Regions from separate parts of the Homo sapiens genome. Here region 2 is linked to region 1. The links come from fine-mapping of genetic effects on gene expression. Tissue or cell type: lung. Region 1 holds a variant in brackets; the other region holds the start of a gene. All regions are shown on one strand. Distances are between the middles of the regions.

Region 1 (2,683 bases):
TGTGTCTTTCCTAAACAGTATCTTGTTCAAAATCAAGCCACTGGAAACAGTTGCTCTGCCAAGGCTGAAGGAGGAGGCAGGCCGCCTTTTCCAGCCTGTCAGGGAGGAAACCTCACCTGCTGCGCTGAGACGGCCTGCCTGTCCTGCTGCTCCTCTGAGTGGTTTTTATCTGCTCCTCCCAGAGAACCTCAGCAATGTGAGGGCAGGAGCCGTCTGCCCACCCCGAAGCCCTGGGGGAAGGACTGCCCGGCACAGCTCCAGGGTAAAAACAGAAACCGTGGGACGCATGGCCTCTCTGCTGTGGGTCCCTCCACCGCCCCGGGCCTGCCAGACAGGTTCTTCCGCGGGGTGCCCACTTCCTGTGTGGAGCCTCCTTGACCCGTCTGGTTCCATGTGCCCCATCTCCACGCGCCTGCATGCCATCACTCCCACCCATCTCTGCGCCTCCCTCCAGGGCCCGGCTGCTGATAGCCCATGCGGGACAGCGCCCGTGGCCGGGACTGAGTCGGCACACCCAGACCCGGGTGCACAGGCTGCCCCAGAGTGACAACGTGAATGCATCCTCAAGCATGTGGAAGGCCCATCCTTTTACAGAGATGTGCACGGGAACATGAGCCTGTCTATTTACTTAGACAAGGGAGGGCCCTGGCCACGTCCAGGCCACAGAGGGAACATGAGCCTGTCTATTTACTTAGATGAGGGAGGGCTCTGGCCATGTCCAGGCCACATGCCACTCCAGTCGGACCTGCCAGAGAGGAGCCCTCCGTGTCCTCCTCCTCCCCTCCCCGTCCAGCGTGGAGGCTCCCGTGAGCCCCGAAGTCGGGGCCCCTTTAATCTGGAGTCTAGGGGGCCCCCTCTGTCTCTCCTTCACAGAGGATTTGGTATAAGCCGTGGAAGGACCTAGTGTTCTCATTTGTGTGTAAATGAAAATTAAAATTCTAAGCCCCCAACCAAAGGATGGACCCTCCCCTTGGCCAACAACATTCCAAATTATCCTGAAAAACTGCTTCAGGCCATGAGGGGAAATGGGAATCAGAGCAGCCTCACAAACATCAACACAGAGACCTTCAGTCTCCTTGAGTCTGATAAGCATTTACCATCTATTCTCTCCCAAGTCTTCTCCCTGGAGGCTTCATCTGCAATAAACCTTGCTCTCTACAACCTCTCATCTTAACCCAGGGATTCCTTTCTGTTTGATTCCAGGTCTTTAGATAGTAAGTCCTTCACCAATGGCCAATCAGAAAATCTTTAAATCTACCTGTGACCTGAAGCCCTCCACCTCCTCATGTTGTTCAGCCTTACCAGACTGAACCAATGTACATGTTACATGTATTGATCGATGTCTCATGCCTATTTAAAATGTATAAACCAAGCTGTGGGCTGGGCGCAGTGGCTCATGCCTATAATCCCAGCACTCTGGGAGGCCGAAGC[G/A]GGTGGATCACTCGAGGTCAGGAGTTTGAGACTAGCCTGGCCAACATGGTGAAACCCCATCTCTACTAAAAATACAAAAAATTAGCCAGGCGGGGTGGTGCGTGCCTGTAATCCCAGCTACTTGGGAGGCTGTAAAAAGTTAAGTAGAGCTTCCTCTTCAAAAACTTTCCTCCCCATCTAATTAGGAATAAATAGTAACTTCTCTTAGAAGCAAAATTTATTCAAAGACCTGTGCTAACATTCTTAAATATCTGCTAGCCATAATAAATAAATGAATGTACTTTTTTTTCTTAGCTCCCACAAGTTAGCCTAAATATTTGCCCTGGCATACTTATACTGGTCCCAGCAAGCATTAGGTCACAGTCTGTTCCTCTTCCTTATTTGAAGGTGTTTTTACCTTTCTCAGCATTCCACAAATTACTTCCTCCTTCCTTTGTTCTCCTCTGCCTTTGCCTCTTTTGAAAAGTTCTAAGTTGCTAGCCAATCGCGACCAATACAGAATGTGAGGTCCCGTTCCAGCCAATGGAAACCAGACACAGCAGTCGGGGGGACGCGTCAGGTTATAAATGACCCTGTCTCCTTTGTTCGGTGTACCTTCACGGCAAAACTGCTGGCGAGTGTGCCCTTTCTGCAGAAAGTAAGAAATGGCCTTGTTGAGTAAATTAAATTTATGTTCCAGTGCTATTTCTTTACAGCACCGGGGAACAAGCATTTCAAACAAGGCTGAGGCAGGAGAATCGTTTGAACTGGGGAGGCGGAGGTTGCAGTGAACTGAGATCTTGCCACTGCACTCCAGCCTGAGTGACAGAGTGAGGCTCTCGTCTCAAAAAAAAAAAAAAGAAGGTGAAGAAGAATTTTTGTGTGTGTGTGTGTGTGTGTGTAGGGTTTAAATAGTTAACTAATATTTTGTACATTGTGTGATCAGGTATCTACTTTCTTATCTACATGGTGTGAAATGAGTTTGTGTGTGTGTGTGTGTGTGTGTGTGTGTGTGTTATAAAATGAACATGTGTTAAATCAGAGACTTGAAGTGCCTGAGACTTTGCTCTGCTCACAAGCTAACAAGCTAGCCAGCCAATTTCACACATACGTGGACACGGGAAACATCAGTTCCCGTGGGTGGACGGGACGATGTGGGTGGAACTTGGACAGGCAGCAGGTGCATGTTGGGGAAGAACCCCAAGTTTAGGAAACTCTCTTATCCTTTTTTGTTTTTTCAGACGGAGTCTTGCTCTGTCGCCCAGGCTGGAGT
Region 2 (2,683 bases), 190 kb before region 1:
GAGGCGGGCGGATCACGAGGTCAGGAGTTCAAGAACAGCCTGACCAACATGGTGAAACCCCGTCTCAACTAAAAATACAAAAATTAGCCGTGCGTGGTGGCACGCACCTGTAATCCCAGCTACTCAGGAGGCTGAGGCAGGAGAATTGCTTGAACCCGGGAGGCAGAGGTTGCAGTGATCTGAGATCACGCCACTGCATTCCAGCCTGGGCGACAGAGTGAGATTTCATCTGAAAAGAAAAAGAAAAAAAAAAAAAAAAAAAAAAAAAGAAGGACATTGGTTCTGTCCAGAAAGGCGGGGGCAACTTGGAACAGGGAGGGGGCTTCCAGGTCACAGGTAGGTGACAGACAAATGGTTGCAGTTTCTGGGTTTCTGATAAGCCTCTCCAAAGGAGGCTATCAATATGCATTTATCTCAGTGAGCAGAGGAATGACTTTGAATAGAATGGGAGGCAGGTTTGTCCTGAGCAGTTCCGAGCTTGTCTTTTCCCTTAGTTTAGTAATTTTGGGGCCCCAAGATTTTCCTTTCAGAAAAAAGAAAATGTGGTATATATACACAATGGAGTACTATTCAGCTCTAATAAAAGAATGAAACCCTATCATTTGCCACAACACGGATAAACCTGAGGATATCATGTAAGCAAAATAAGACACAGAAAGACAAATACCTCATGATCTCACTCATGTGGCATCTTTAAAACGAAGTTAATCATTAAGATATTTACCAGTTGTCTGAGGTATTGGGTTGAATTTTCTTTTTTTTTTTTTTTTTGAGACGCAGTCTCGCTCTGTTGCCAGGCAGAAGTGCAGTGGCGCGATCTCGGCTCACTGCAACCTCCGCCTCCCAGGTTCAAGCGATTCTCCTGCCTCGGCCTCCCGAGTAGCTGGGACGACAGGCACCCGCCATCACGCCCCGCTAATTTTTTGTATTTTTAGTTGAGACGGGGTTTCACCATGTTGGCCAGGATAGTCTCGATCTCCTGACCTCGTGATCCGCCCGCCTCGGCCTCCCAAAGTACTGGGATTAAAGGCGTGAGCCACTGCACCCTGCCTTCCAAATTAAAAACTTTTTAAAACCTCGTACCTCGCCGTGGGCGGCGACCGTCGCGGACTCGCCGGGAAGACGGCCCCACGGAGCCGGGAACACCGCCCGCTGTTCGTATGTCCGAGGTGACGCCCCGCTGTGGCGGGCTGGCGGAAGTGACGCGCTGCTGTGGCGCGCCGGCGGACGTGACGCCACTGTCGCTGCGACGATAAGGCCTGGCGTTATTGCTTAGAGGCGGCTACCTGGAGCCGGAAGCGCGGCTGCAGCAGGGCGAGGCTCCAGGTGGGGTCGGTTCCGCATCCAGCCTAGCGTGTCCACGATGCGGCTGGGCTCCGGGACTTTCGCTACCTGTTGCGTAGCGATCGAGGTGCTAGGGATCGCGGTCTTCCTTCGGGGATTCTTCCCGGCTCCCGTTCGTTCCTCTGCCAGAGCGGAACACGGAGCGGAGCCCCCAGCGCCCGAACCCTCGGCTGGTACGGACCCCTCCCCGGCGTCTCCGCTCCCCTGACCCCACATCCCCTAGAAGACCTTTTTTCTGAGCCTCGCTGCTCGGATTTCTTCTCGGCGCTCCCCGGTGGTCTCTTCCATTATGGTCCCCACCTCAGAAATTTTTTTTAACCGCTCCAGCGTCTCTTTTCTGTATTCTTACAACTTTGTGGCAACCACCTCTACTGGCCCCACTTCGACCTTCCTTCCTGATCACCACAAAGTAAGCTGTGTCCATACCTGGGATCCAGCCTCTCCACTTCTACTCGTCCAGAGCTCCCGCCCCTTTCCTGAGCAGCCTTTGGGTCACTCCCCGTTATAGGCGCCCTTTTTGCCCCCTAGCACACAACAGATAAGACCCCTGCCGATCCCCTCGCGTTTTGGTCTCTTATATTCCTCCAAGATGTTTTCCCTGCCTAGGGGCTAAGGCCTCTCTGCGTTAGGCCTCTTCCTAGGCTTCACCTACCCAGCCATATACAGCAAGTAAAGGCGCCCTGGTTCTGGACCACTTGCACACATCGCCAGCCGCTGACCATGTAAACGCAGTATGTAAACGCCCAGCCATCCCGTAGCTGCAGCTCTGCGTTTTAGGTCAAGCTCCCTAAATGTCCCATTCCAGGACCCTTACGTAGGGATTCTCCTACCCCAGTACTCTTCACCATACTGAGGATAATTCACTGCTTGCTACTGTGGGTCCCTAAGATTACTCCTGTTAACCCCCGTCCTTTCCCCCCAGCACTACCTACCAAGTACAAGTCGCCTCCTTTTGGGTTGGGTTATGTAGATATCGCAGGGTATGTGCTGGAGAAGTAGGTAGAAGCTAGATTGTGAAGGTGCTTGATGCTAAGGAAAGTTTAGAGTTCAATTTCCTTTTTTTTCTTTCAAACACTTAGGAGCCAGTTCTAACTGGACCACGCTGCCACCACCTCTCTTCAGTAAAGTTGTTATTGTTCTGATAGATGCCTTGAGAGATGATTTTGTGTTTGGGTCAAAGGGTGTGAAATTTATGCCCTACACAACTTACCTTGTGGAAAAAGGAGCATCTCACAGTTTTGTGGCTGAAGCAAAGCCACCTACAGTTACTATGCCTCGAATCAAGGTAAGTTTGCCTTAATGTTTTATGAATCATGGTTTGGCTGTTTTGAAGATTTAG

What was found. PIP is the estimated chance that this variant, and not a neighbour inherited with it, causes the effect.
Region 2: it holds the start of PIGG, and the variant in region 1 is fine-mapped to the expression of PIGG in lung (GTEx, PIP 0.98).

Annotation. Positions count from the first base shown.
Region 1 is chr4:692,739-695,421 of GRCh38, forward strand. No RefSeq gene overlaps it. Among named protein-coding and RNA genes, the nearest start is that of SLC49A3, 4.9 kb to the left of the region's middle. RefSeq lists enhancers at 1-396, 397-983, 2,091-2,591. The variant G/A (reference allele first, on the strand shown) is at 1,432.
Region 2 is chr4:497,973-500,655 of GRCh38, forward strand. PIGG (phosphatidylinositol glycan anchor biosynthesis class G (EMM blood group)) reads left to right here and starts at 1,238. Exons shown (of 13, transcript NM_001127178.3): 1 at 1,238-1,517; 2 at 2,424-2,629. The coding sequence starts at 1,364. It overlaps ZNF721 (zinc finger protein 721), which reads right to left and starts at 1,184. Exons shown (of 3, transcript NM_133474.4): 1 at 1,084-1,184. RefSeq lists enhancers at 470-1,335, 899-1,378, 1,336-2,199.